Linked DNA regions of Homo sapiens: region 1 is linked to region 2. Evidence: fine-mapped expression QTL. A gene starts in region 2. The other region holds a variant in brackets. All regions are shown on one strand. Distances are between the middles of the regions.

Region 1 (5,392 bases), 25 kb after region 2:
AACAGGATAGATTAGGAATAAGAAAGCTGGCCAAGTCTTGAGTTTTGAAACTTTGTTATGATCATTGTACTACCTCATGCTTCTGAAGTGCTTTATAGTCTCTAAAACAATTTGCCTTATGTAATCTCAGTTGATTCTTTGGATAGAGAGCCTGTGGAGTAGGCTGTGAAGGCATTTTCATTTTCATGTTCAGAGAGGCTGACATTTAGAAGTGACAGACTGTTAGAGATGATCTCTAGTCATCTCACTTTACAGGTGAAAAAACCTGAGTGATAAAGTGACTTGCCCAACGTTCCCAGATCACGTCACCTGAGCCAAGGCAAGAATCCAGGCTGACAGAACAACAAGTTTAGTGTTTTTTCATTATACTTTGATGCATCTGCTCATTTCCAAATAAATTTAATTTGTCAGAACTTCAAAATACTTGATGTTAAACTTGCATTTTAATGCTGAAAATGTAAAGGCATTTGAGTTAAAAAGCACTAAATTCAACTCCCTTGTTGCTGTTTGTGGTACTTGTTCATTATGTATATTTAGTGTTAGAAATCAAAAAATAAATGATATATGTTCCCAGGTCTTTAACTGCTCCCAATATAAAGGGGAAGATAAGTAACACTGGAAATACAGAATACTGATAGAACTTTTGGGGTCAGAAAGAGGGTGAGAATGATTTCAGTTGATTGCACCCAAAAAATATTCATGGAAAAGCAATTTTTAACAAGCTGTTAATGTTAGATTCAACATGGGAAGCTTTTTAGAAGTATATATTCCTGTAGAATCTGATTCAGTTATTTTAAGCCAGATGGATATGTTGGCATACTTGTAGTTGAGAACCACTGATCTAGTCTTGGAAGAATGGTTAGGCTTTTAGCAAATGAAGGCTGACAAACAGAGCAGCTTAAGTTAAGGCATAGAGGGAGGAAAATTATAGGTCACAGAGAGTTGTCTGACATGGTTGGAATCTATGATACCTGAGGGGTTTACACTTGTGATATTAGGTGAAAGTCTGAAATTCCAATCATGATCTATAGGGAAAAGTTTAAAAAGTTACAATATATGATTTTCAATGCTTGCTCTCTAAAAGTGCAAAGAACTATCTAAAGGTGGAATATACTATATTAGGAAAAGTTTATGTGGGGATTCTCTGAAAGATGACTAGGATCTAATTAAAGGATAATATTGATAATGGCAAAAGTTTTTTCGTTACAAAAGTCTCAAATTTTGCCATACTGTACTCTACATTTTCCCAACAAGGTTATGAAGTAACTTTCAACTGTTGATCACATAATGTAATCAAAAGAATAAAAGAAAAAGGTGTCAGCAGAATGTAATGATAGAAATACAGATAAAACCAATGGGTTAAATGTGATCAGGTGTTTGGTAAAGGCAGGTCACAAATTTGGCTTTGAGCTTGGAGCAAAAACAGAGATATGAATTTGAATATTTGAGCAACACACTTGTTCCACGAGAATCCCAACTATTCCTGATTATAAGACTTGAGATAAATGTCTCTGGATTCTTAGGGAAAAGAAAAGTGTTATGTTCTCCAACCACACTCTCACAGAAAACATGATGGCTATATTATAATAGGCTATTTTTAAGGAAATAAGCCTATGCATATATTTTTTAAATGAATTAAATAAAATCTCTTGAGGAGCTTATGTGCTATATGATCCTTCTGGTGGTCGGACTTTATCTAGGGAGAGTATCCATGGAGTGATCACATTGTTTAGGCAATGCTCCATGGGTATTGTCTCTCACTGGAACTTTGGAAAAGTATCACACTGTGTGGGTGTTGGAGATTATATATTCTCTGAAAATACCTACAATGTGTGTGTTTTGTTTCCCATGAAGTGCAGAGTCAGAGACTTTAATAATCAGCAGAACTGGGGTATAGGATAGGCCACCACTGCTAATGAAGTTCTTCAGGCTCTTTCAAAAGATTTATCTCAAGAGATGCCAAACTTTCAGAAATAATGAAACAAACATAGAGCTTGGTTTCTCCACAGATTGCATATGGCTTCTTTTTTAAATTAGTGTTTCAAACATTAGCCAAAGCTTACATATAGGTGAAATGGAGGCATTATGGGTTTACTTAGAATCTTTAACTTTATGGAATTTTATGAAACAAAATATGACTCCTGCTCCTGCCACTGAGTTAACTGGGTCATCTTGGACAAGATACTTAATCATTGCAGGGTTATTGTAAATACGAGGGATACCATACATACAATGTTCAGGCCAGAAGCAGTGGATCACGCCTGTAATCCTAGCACTTTGGGAGGCCGAGGTGGGTGGATCACTTGAGGTCAGGAGGTCAAGACCAACCTGGCCAACATGGTGAAATCCCATCTCTACTAAAAATACAAAAATTAGCTGGGTGTGGTGGTGTGTGCCTGTAATGCCAGCTACTTGGGAGGCTGAGGCAGGAGAATCGCTTGACCCTGGGAGGTGAAGGTTGCAGTGAGCCGAGATCATGCAATTCCACTCCAGACTGGGGGGACAAGAGCAAAACTCTGTCTTAAAAACAAAACAAAACAAAATAAAACAATGTTCAGTAGAAGCCCTTTAAAAACGGTATTGTCTTAACTACTATCCAATTGGTCCATAAATCATGTGAAGAGCCGTGAAGAAAAGGTACACCTCAACAGTATATCTGAATTTTTCTTGAGGGCATTTGGTATTCTGTATAAAGTTGATGGCCCCTAGAAAAAAACCCCAACTTCTGTAACTGTAAATCTAAATTTCTTAAAGGTAAAAGTTTCTCTAGCTAAAGTGACATAAATGGTAGTGGTAAGGAAACCTACCCTGTGTAAATTAATTTTTTTCCTAAATTATCAATTATCATATTGGTCTGTCCAAATTATGACAGCTCTGTATGCTATAATTTTTGGCCTAAATTATCTGGTTTTGTCTACACAGCAAAACTCCATTTTGGACTGTGACTTTTATATCAAATATTTATTTAAAGATGTCTGTTGTGTTGGGGAACTCATCACCAGATTGTGGCATGTTGAATCTT[C/T]GAGTAGGAGAATTTTAACATGATAAACAGTAGGAAAATAATTTAAACCCTATTTCCAGATGTGGTGCTCTTGCCTAATATGCTGGTAATGATTAATTAAAATAATAGAAATTTCCTTTAAATTCGATCATTAAAAATTTTTTTCCCAGGTGATGCATTCCGGGGTCTCAAAAAAGAAGATAATCAAAATGCAATGCCTTTTAGCACATCAGATGTTGATAATGATGGGTGTCGCCCTGCATGCCTGGTCAATGGTCAGTCTGTGAAGAGCTGCAGTCACCTCCATAACAAGACCGGCTGGTGGTTTAACGAGTGTGGTCTAGCAAATCTAAATGGCATTCATCACTTCTCTGGAAAATTGCTTGCAACTGGAATTCAATGGGGCACGTGGACCAAAAACAACTCACCTGTCAAGATTAAATCTGTTTCAATGAAAATTAGAAGAATGTACAATCCATATTTTAAATAATCTCATTTAACATTGTAATGCAAGTTCTACAATGATAATATATTAAAGATTTTTAAAAGTTTATCTTTTCACTTAGTGTTTCAAACATATTAGGCAAAATTTAACTGTAGATGGCATTTAGATGTTATGAGTTTAATTAGAAAACTTCAATTTTGTAGTATTCTATAAAAGAAAACATGGCTTATTGTATGTTTTTACTTCTGACTATATTAACAATATACAATGAAATTTGTTTCAAGTGAACTACAACTTGTCTTCCTAAAATTTATAGTGATTTTAAAGGATTTTGCCTTTTCTTTGAAGCATTTTTAAACCATAATATGTTGTAAGGAAAATTGAAGGGAATATTTTACTTATTTTTATACTTTATATGATTATATAATCTACAGATAATTTCTACTGAAGACAGTTACAATAAATAACTTTATGCAGATTAATATATAAGCTACACATGATGTAAAAACCTTACTATTTCTAGGTGATGCCATACCATTTTAAAAGTAGTAAGAGTTTGCTGCCCAAATAGTTTTTCTTGTTTTCATATCTAATCATGGTTAACTATTTTGTTATTGTTTGTAATAAATATATGTACTTTTATATCCTGATCAGCTGCATTCTAAAATACGTCTTTATCTGAACTCTTTTTGAACCAGTAGGAATGGTTTGTAGTTTACATGAAGGATGGTCGATAAAACAGTGATGAATCAATTCTAGATATACTCTAGGAATAAGCTGGTCCCCTCTACTTTTTCTACAAAGGTGGAGGGAATTGGATGGTAAGGATTCCTTAGGAGAGGACAGCAGGGAACATGCAGGGCCAAGTGTCAGTTACTGATAAGAGAGACAAGGGAAATGATCAAGAATTAGTTTTGAATAGAAGGTACTTTGTCCAGAGTTAGGGTTATATAATACTCAAGGGAGGGGAAAAGTGGCTGAAAAATTAAGTGGGAAGAGGATTGAATAAAAGTAAGTTTGAGGATATAGATGTCAGGGTGACATAGCTAAGCCCAGAATAGAACCAGAATCTGATTTGGGTTCAGGGATGGACAAAAATGATAATAAGGTCGTCATTTAAGGTGCTTTCACTTTGATATCCTCTGAAAGCAGTGAATACATCGTGAACAGGATTACATGAGATGATTACATGAGATAAGATTGCAGGAGGGTGCACATGGATTCCCATGGTCTCCAATGCATATCACAGAGGCACAGCTGAGGTTGTATCTTGGCAGTGGAGTCAGATGCGTGCCAGGTTGGAGAAGCACAGAACTGCCTTTTATATCGGTAATGATATGAGCACCACGAGGCAAATTCCCCTACAAATCAAGGCAATAATTTTGTTGCTTAGCAAGCCAATCTGTTGTTTTGAATCTGGGCCTTGAAATCTTTGCTGAGCTGGGACAGAGGCAATCTCCCTTATGGTACTGCAAGAGATAGGGGCTTCACATTTTTATCCCATCTAAAGCCTATGGAAATGATGGAAAAATTGAGGATGAAAGCAGAATGGGAATCAATGGAATACTGAATGGAAAGATGGACCCAGAGAGCAGTGAGAAATTTTAATTTTGGGGGGCTTTGGAGTGGAAAGATATATTTGACTTATAATTGACTAACCATGGACAACATTACTTCCAGGATGCCTTGTGAGATGCTTTAAAAGTATTAAGAGGTCTCAAACCCTATTGCAAATGAGAAGGTATATTTCAGGTCATAATCCTGAGCCTCAGATACTCAGACCTGACTCTTAGGAGATGTTAAGGGATAAGGGCAATTGTCTTTCGTTCCCTTCCTTCCTTCTTTCTTTTTCTTTCTTTCTCTTTCTTTCTTTCTTTCTTTTTTCTTTCTTTTTCTTTCTTTCTCTTTCTTTCTTCTTTCTTTCTCTTTTTTCTTTCTTTCTTTCT
Region 2 (5,392 bases):
GGTTGTTTAAAATGTTGCCATCACAAATAACTATGTATTATATAACCCATTTTTTCCCCAAATCTATTAAAGCTATGTTGATTCGATTTTTCCTCTACTGTACCTTCTTCCTCTCCCTTAACTCAGGTACTCTAAATCCCTTGCTTGGACGACTACAGTGCTCCTCTAATTCTTCTTACTCTAAACCTCTATTTGAACCTACACAAAGTCAGCTAAATGCAAATCTGATTGTGTTTCTCTTTGTTGTTCTCCAAAAGCTCCCTATCACCTTCATGAAAAATTCCAAAGTTCTTGGACCTATATATAAACCATTCTATAATATAGTTTGTTTTTTCAACTTTATTTCTTAACATTTCCCTGTATGAATCCTATGTCCAGACGCACTAAGATAATTATAAACAGAACAACCCGTGATGTATCATACCATTATCTCTTGGCACATGCTTGGCTAACTCTACTCATCCTTTCAGGGCCATCTCAAGCAGTTCGTTCTACCTTGAAGCCTTTTCTAACCTCCACTAGATGACTTGATGACACCTTCATGAGTACATGATAAGTGTCTTCTCTACATTTCTGTAACTCTCACGCCTGGCATGGTTCTTAGAATATAGTAATGATTTAATAAAAACCTCCTGAATTATTCCCTTGGAGAAAATTCTCTGGGGTAGATATGAGGACAAAAGGCATATGCATTTTTATATCTTTTAGTGCATTATAGAAAACTTGGCTCCTAAGGGGGTTATACAAAAGTATATGCCATTAGAAATGTATTATGTACCTAAGTTTCAAAATCTCATGAGCATGGGGCAGTACCTTTTAGAAACACAAGGTACAAAACTATGTTTTATTATGTATGTATTAGCAAAATACAATTTATTTATTTATTTATAGACAGGGTCTCACTCTGTTGCCTAGGCTGGAGTGCAGTGGCATAATCTCGGCTCACTGCAACCTCCACCTCGCAGTCTCAAGCAATCTTCCTGCCTCAGCCTCTTAAGTAGATGGTACTACAAGCATGCACCACAACACACAGCTAATTTTTGTATTTTTTGTAGAGATATGGTTTCACCACGTTGCCCAGGCTGGTTTCGAACTCCTGGACTCAAGCAATCTGCCTACCTCGGCCTCCCAAAGTGCTAGGATTACAGATGTGAGCCACTGGGCCCAGCTGAATGGGTTCACTTCACTTTCTATAGTAAAAGTAAGATCCCATCAGTGAGCCTGGGGGGAAAAAAAGACAGGTGGGTGGGAGTGTGTGTGTTTGTGCTGTTTGTTGGAACAGACCTGTCAGGGCATCCAAGTCTTATCAAGTGGTAAGACAGTCTATCGAGTGTGATGGAAGGTGACAGAGACCTGGCAGAGGCATTCATAGGAAAAAGAAAGAACCCTGTTCCTGTTTAGGTGAAGCTGGAAACCATCAATCTTTAGTGGTACAATCTGTATTGTTTTGTGATTTTTCTTTGACAGCATTTTTATTATTCGCATGAAGGAGTAAAGGAGCAGGACTATAGTAGTTATTGAGTGGCTGAGGCAGAATGATTGGGGTACAAATAGCCAAAGATGTTGGTGAGAGAAAGTTCAAATAGTTAAGAATAGGGTATAAACTGGAGAGGAAAGGAGAGGCAAGGTGGGTGCTAGGATAAAATGGGAGGGTTGAAGGGTAGAGATATTTATGAGGAAAAAAAGGCAGGTATAAGGGGACATGAGAGACCTTCCTTTTTTTTTTTTTTTTAAATTCCATTTCTATTTGAACTCTCAAAAGAGAAAAAGAGATTGAAATGACAGAACTTTAGCTAATTTTAATTAAATAAACTTCATAAGGTTTTGTTGTTTTATAACCTTTAGAGTCAGAAAATTCTGACTCCAGTGAGAAAATGTCTTCAACAGAAAGCCAGATGGCCTCTGAGTATCATGTTCATATTTGAAATTGAAATGTAAATGTTACCACATACTTGCTTATTTTAAGGCTGTGGTCCTTTCATTTGCTTTCTTTCCTTTTTTTCATTTAGTCATGTAAATTTGAGCACCTACTCTGTGCTAGGTATCCAATGGGAAACATTATAGACACAAAGAACATTCCAATTAAACTTATATAAAAGGTACTTTAGTGTTTTTCCAGCTAGCAAACATAATGTTCTTGATTTAGTGTTATAATCTTTATTATGTTCAAAAATAATTCCTCTGTTCCAATTTAAATATATATTATCTAAACATATATATACACACATATGCAAACTAGCAAAAATATATATAAACCAGCACACACACACACACACACACACACACACACACACACACACACACACATTGTTGGATTTTATCAAAGTCTATTGGTCATCTATTAAAATGTTCATTTATAACTTGCCTAATTTTAACTATATATTTAGCCTTTAAGGATCTTTTTTAGTGTTGTATTTCTTTATAGGAAATGTCATTCTAATTCTGGAATAGAGTCTATTTGGTTGTGTTCATTCAAAGTATTGCTGGATTCTATTTATGAATATTTTCTTTGGCATTTGTATCAAAAATTTATACCACATAAAATTTAAAAAATGAGGCCTACAACCATTTTATTAATGAAAATAACAGAAAATACACTCTCAATGAGCCATTTACAATACTTCCCTATTTTCTGATTTAGAGATAAATCAGGGTCGTGTAATAGCAGTTGTGTCCAAGAAAATATAATGTCAAGAGGCCAGAATTAAATCCATACAGAAAATGATTGTGTTCATTTCAGAGTAACCTTTAAGAGGGCAATTTTGGGGAGCAGCAAGGGCAAAAGCCAAACTGAATGGGGTTAATAATGAATAGATGAGAGGAACTAGAAGCAGCTATTGCAAGCTACCATTTTGAGAACCTGCCCAAAGAAAGAAAAGACTGAAGGGATGGAAGATTGCAGAAAGCATGATCGGAGAAGAGATATTTTACTTTTAGTGAAGCTCTATACACATTTGTCTTCCTCACTAGATTTGTATCCCTAGAACCTAGAACAGAGTCAGCCAAAGAGCAGGCACTCAATACAAATTGTTGACTTGCTGCTAAAATTGTAACAGAGTACAAAGAACATCCTAGAAATTGGAGACAAAGGGGATAAGAAAACAGAGTTAACTTGGAAAGAGAAGACACTCATCTCTGACAAGACTGAAGATGATTACACAACACCATCATTGCCAACCAAGTCCTTTGGGAATACAAAGGTTAAATCCTAATCATCACAACAGTCTCTAAAGGAATAAACCTGATTTACAGATTTTGATAACAAAATACTTCTCCTCTTTCCATTTTCTACAATGCAACCAACAGCAACATCAAAGGTAGGCTTAACCAACTCTTCGAGAAAAGTCAGAGTTAATCCAGATTGTAAAGCGTCCAGGTCCCCTGTTTCTCATTTCCTCTTTTCTGTCGCTCTGACAACAGACTGGGCAGAGATGGAAAACAAAACAACTTACCAAACTGTGTAGCCTTTAGCAGCTCTGGTAAATGCATTTAGGGCTGTGTTAGGATAACTGTTAAAACGGACTCTTTAGGATAGCAAAACATTTTACTTATTTGTGTAATTTCTCTCTCCAAGTAGTACGATAAATCAGGAAGTAGTTAATATGTAAGTAAAGAACATAATGGCATAAAAATATCCCCACAGAATACACAGTTGATGTGTTTTAAAATTCACAAAAATTTTACAAAGTTGAAGAATGGGAGTAGGATAACAGGGTGATGGGGGGAAGCAGCCACAGAATTAGATAAAATGGTATAATTTCAGGTCTAAGGTGAGACACGACAGTTGCTAAAGGAAATATCTGCACTAAGATGACTTGCTAGTTTTGATCACCCTGCGTCAAAGGTAATGGGAATCTAATTGGAAAAAGATGGGCCCCGTTTTCAACATCGCTACCCTGGCAGCCACAGGCTGGGAAGGATACAGGTAAGAGCCAGGTCGGTGATGCCCGCCGCTCTCCCGAGGGCCGAGGGGGGCTCTGTCGAGGTTGTCCGATGATTCAGTGCCCAGTTCCCCGACCGCGCTCCGGGTTCCGGGCCTCCCCGCCAGCATCCTTCACTTCAGCGCCGCCTGTCTGCTCGCCCCCAGAACCTCCCTCATGGCAGCTCCGGCTTCCTCCTCCTCCTGCTCGGCCCCTCCCTACACTCCGTCTCTCAGGCCCCGCGTCACGGGCGCGGAAGGGTTGGCCTCGACAGCCCTAGCTCCCGCGCAGCGGCACTGGTGCCTGTAGCGGCGATGGCAGCTGAGGCAGCGGCGACCTCGCCGGGCAATAGCAGATGGGGCGGCAGCAACCCTGCAGCCGCCATCTTGACAACAACCGACGGCGCGTCCTTGACAACGGAAACCTGGGAGGAGCTACAGGTCGGGGCGGGACGATGTGCCCGAAGCAGCCAATCGCAGGCTCCGGCGGCCCCTCCAGCTTCGAGCGGCGGGTGGCAACCCAAGCATCCCTAGGGACCCGGGTTGTTGCGCGAGGGGTGAGCTGAGTGTTGTTTTAGAGCCTGATGCAGTTCTGCCTCCCTTTTTATGAGAGTGTTTTTGTGGCAGTACCGACAGTGACGAAAGACAGATGTAAAATCCTCAGATACAGGCAATTGCCACCGGGAGGAGTCTGCAGTGATTGTCTGGGGGACAATTTGGAGTTGAATTTGTTAAACTACTGAATCCTGTTGTGAGATTTTGAGTTGTGAGTCTTTCTGTGGCATCATCATCCCCAAACACCGTCTCTTTAAAATGTCTTTGTGAAGTGGAAATTTTCCTTCCCTGCATTCTCTCATCCACTCGGTAATGCTTCTGGCATTCCCTCTGCAGTCGTCTTCCTTGCCTTTGCCCTACTTAGAAGGTCTACATTTCAAAGCCTCCTAATGGTTCTCGCATTGCTGCCAGATTCTGGAAATGGACCATCACAGCAAAACTAGCAATCTCTTGGGAAGATATGCCAAAAGAGATCATCGCATTGAAATGGTTTTGGGAAGTATGGAAAATTAAATGGATTTTTGAGACACTAGTTTATTGGCTATGCAAGTGACAGTTTTGAAAAAGGCTGAATCTTATTGTTGGAGCCTAATGTAAATGCATATATAAATTCTGACTGTATTTCAGTCAGTGTTTTCTTGGAAAAATTCCCAGATTGGAAGCAGAAAGTACAGACCAAATAAAGATTATTCACCCACCATTCAAATGTCTCTGCCTTTGTGAATTAATTTGTTCATTTTAAGATTTCAAATAATAAACTTTTCCAGTTGAAACTGTTTAAAACAATCTTTGCAAACTTGGTTGCAATGACTCAAATTGGAATGTACACTGGCGACAGATTTTAAAGTGCCACAACAAATCCAGTTTCGATTTAAGACACAAAACACATGAACTCTCCTTCAGAAGCATACCAACAGG

Which allele goes with the higher level. Positions count from the first base shown, and alleles are read on the strand shown. Sizes are in standard deviations (SD) of each study's normalised expression.
In carriers of allele C in region 1, the expression in transverse colon of the gene that starts at base 2,814 in region 2 tends to be lower than with T alone (small effect, 0.21 SD a copy in GTEx).

The links. PIP is the estimated chance that this variant, and not a neighbour inherited with it, causes the effect.
Region 1: its variant is the best candidate, but not a certain one, in a credible set for the expression of ANGPTL5 in transverse colon (GTEx, PIP 0.73).

Annotation. Positions count from the first base shown.
Region 1 is chr11:101,889,378-101,894,769 of GRCh38, reverse strand. It overlaps ANGPTL5 (angiopoietin like 5), which reads left to right. Exons shown (of 9, transcript NM_178127.5): 9 at 3,172-4,096. The coding sequence ends at 3,491. Among named protein-coding and RNA genes, the nearest start is that of CEP126, 23 kb to the left of the region's middle. The variant C/T (reference allele first, on the strand shown) is at 3,023.
Region 2 is chr11:101,913,944-101,919,335 of GRCh38, reverse strand. ANGPTL5 (angiopoietin like 5) reads left to right here and starts at 2,814. Exons shown (of 9, transcript NM_178127.5): 1 at 2,814-3,317. CEP126 (centrosomal protein 126) reads right to left here and starts at 4,326. Exons shown (of 11, transcript NM_020802.4): 1 at 3,924-4,326. The coding sequence starts at 4,051. RefSeq lists an enhancer at 4,308-4,407.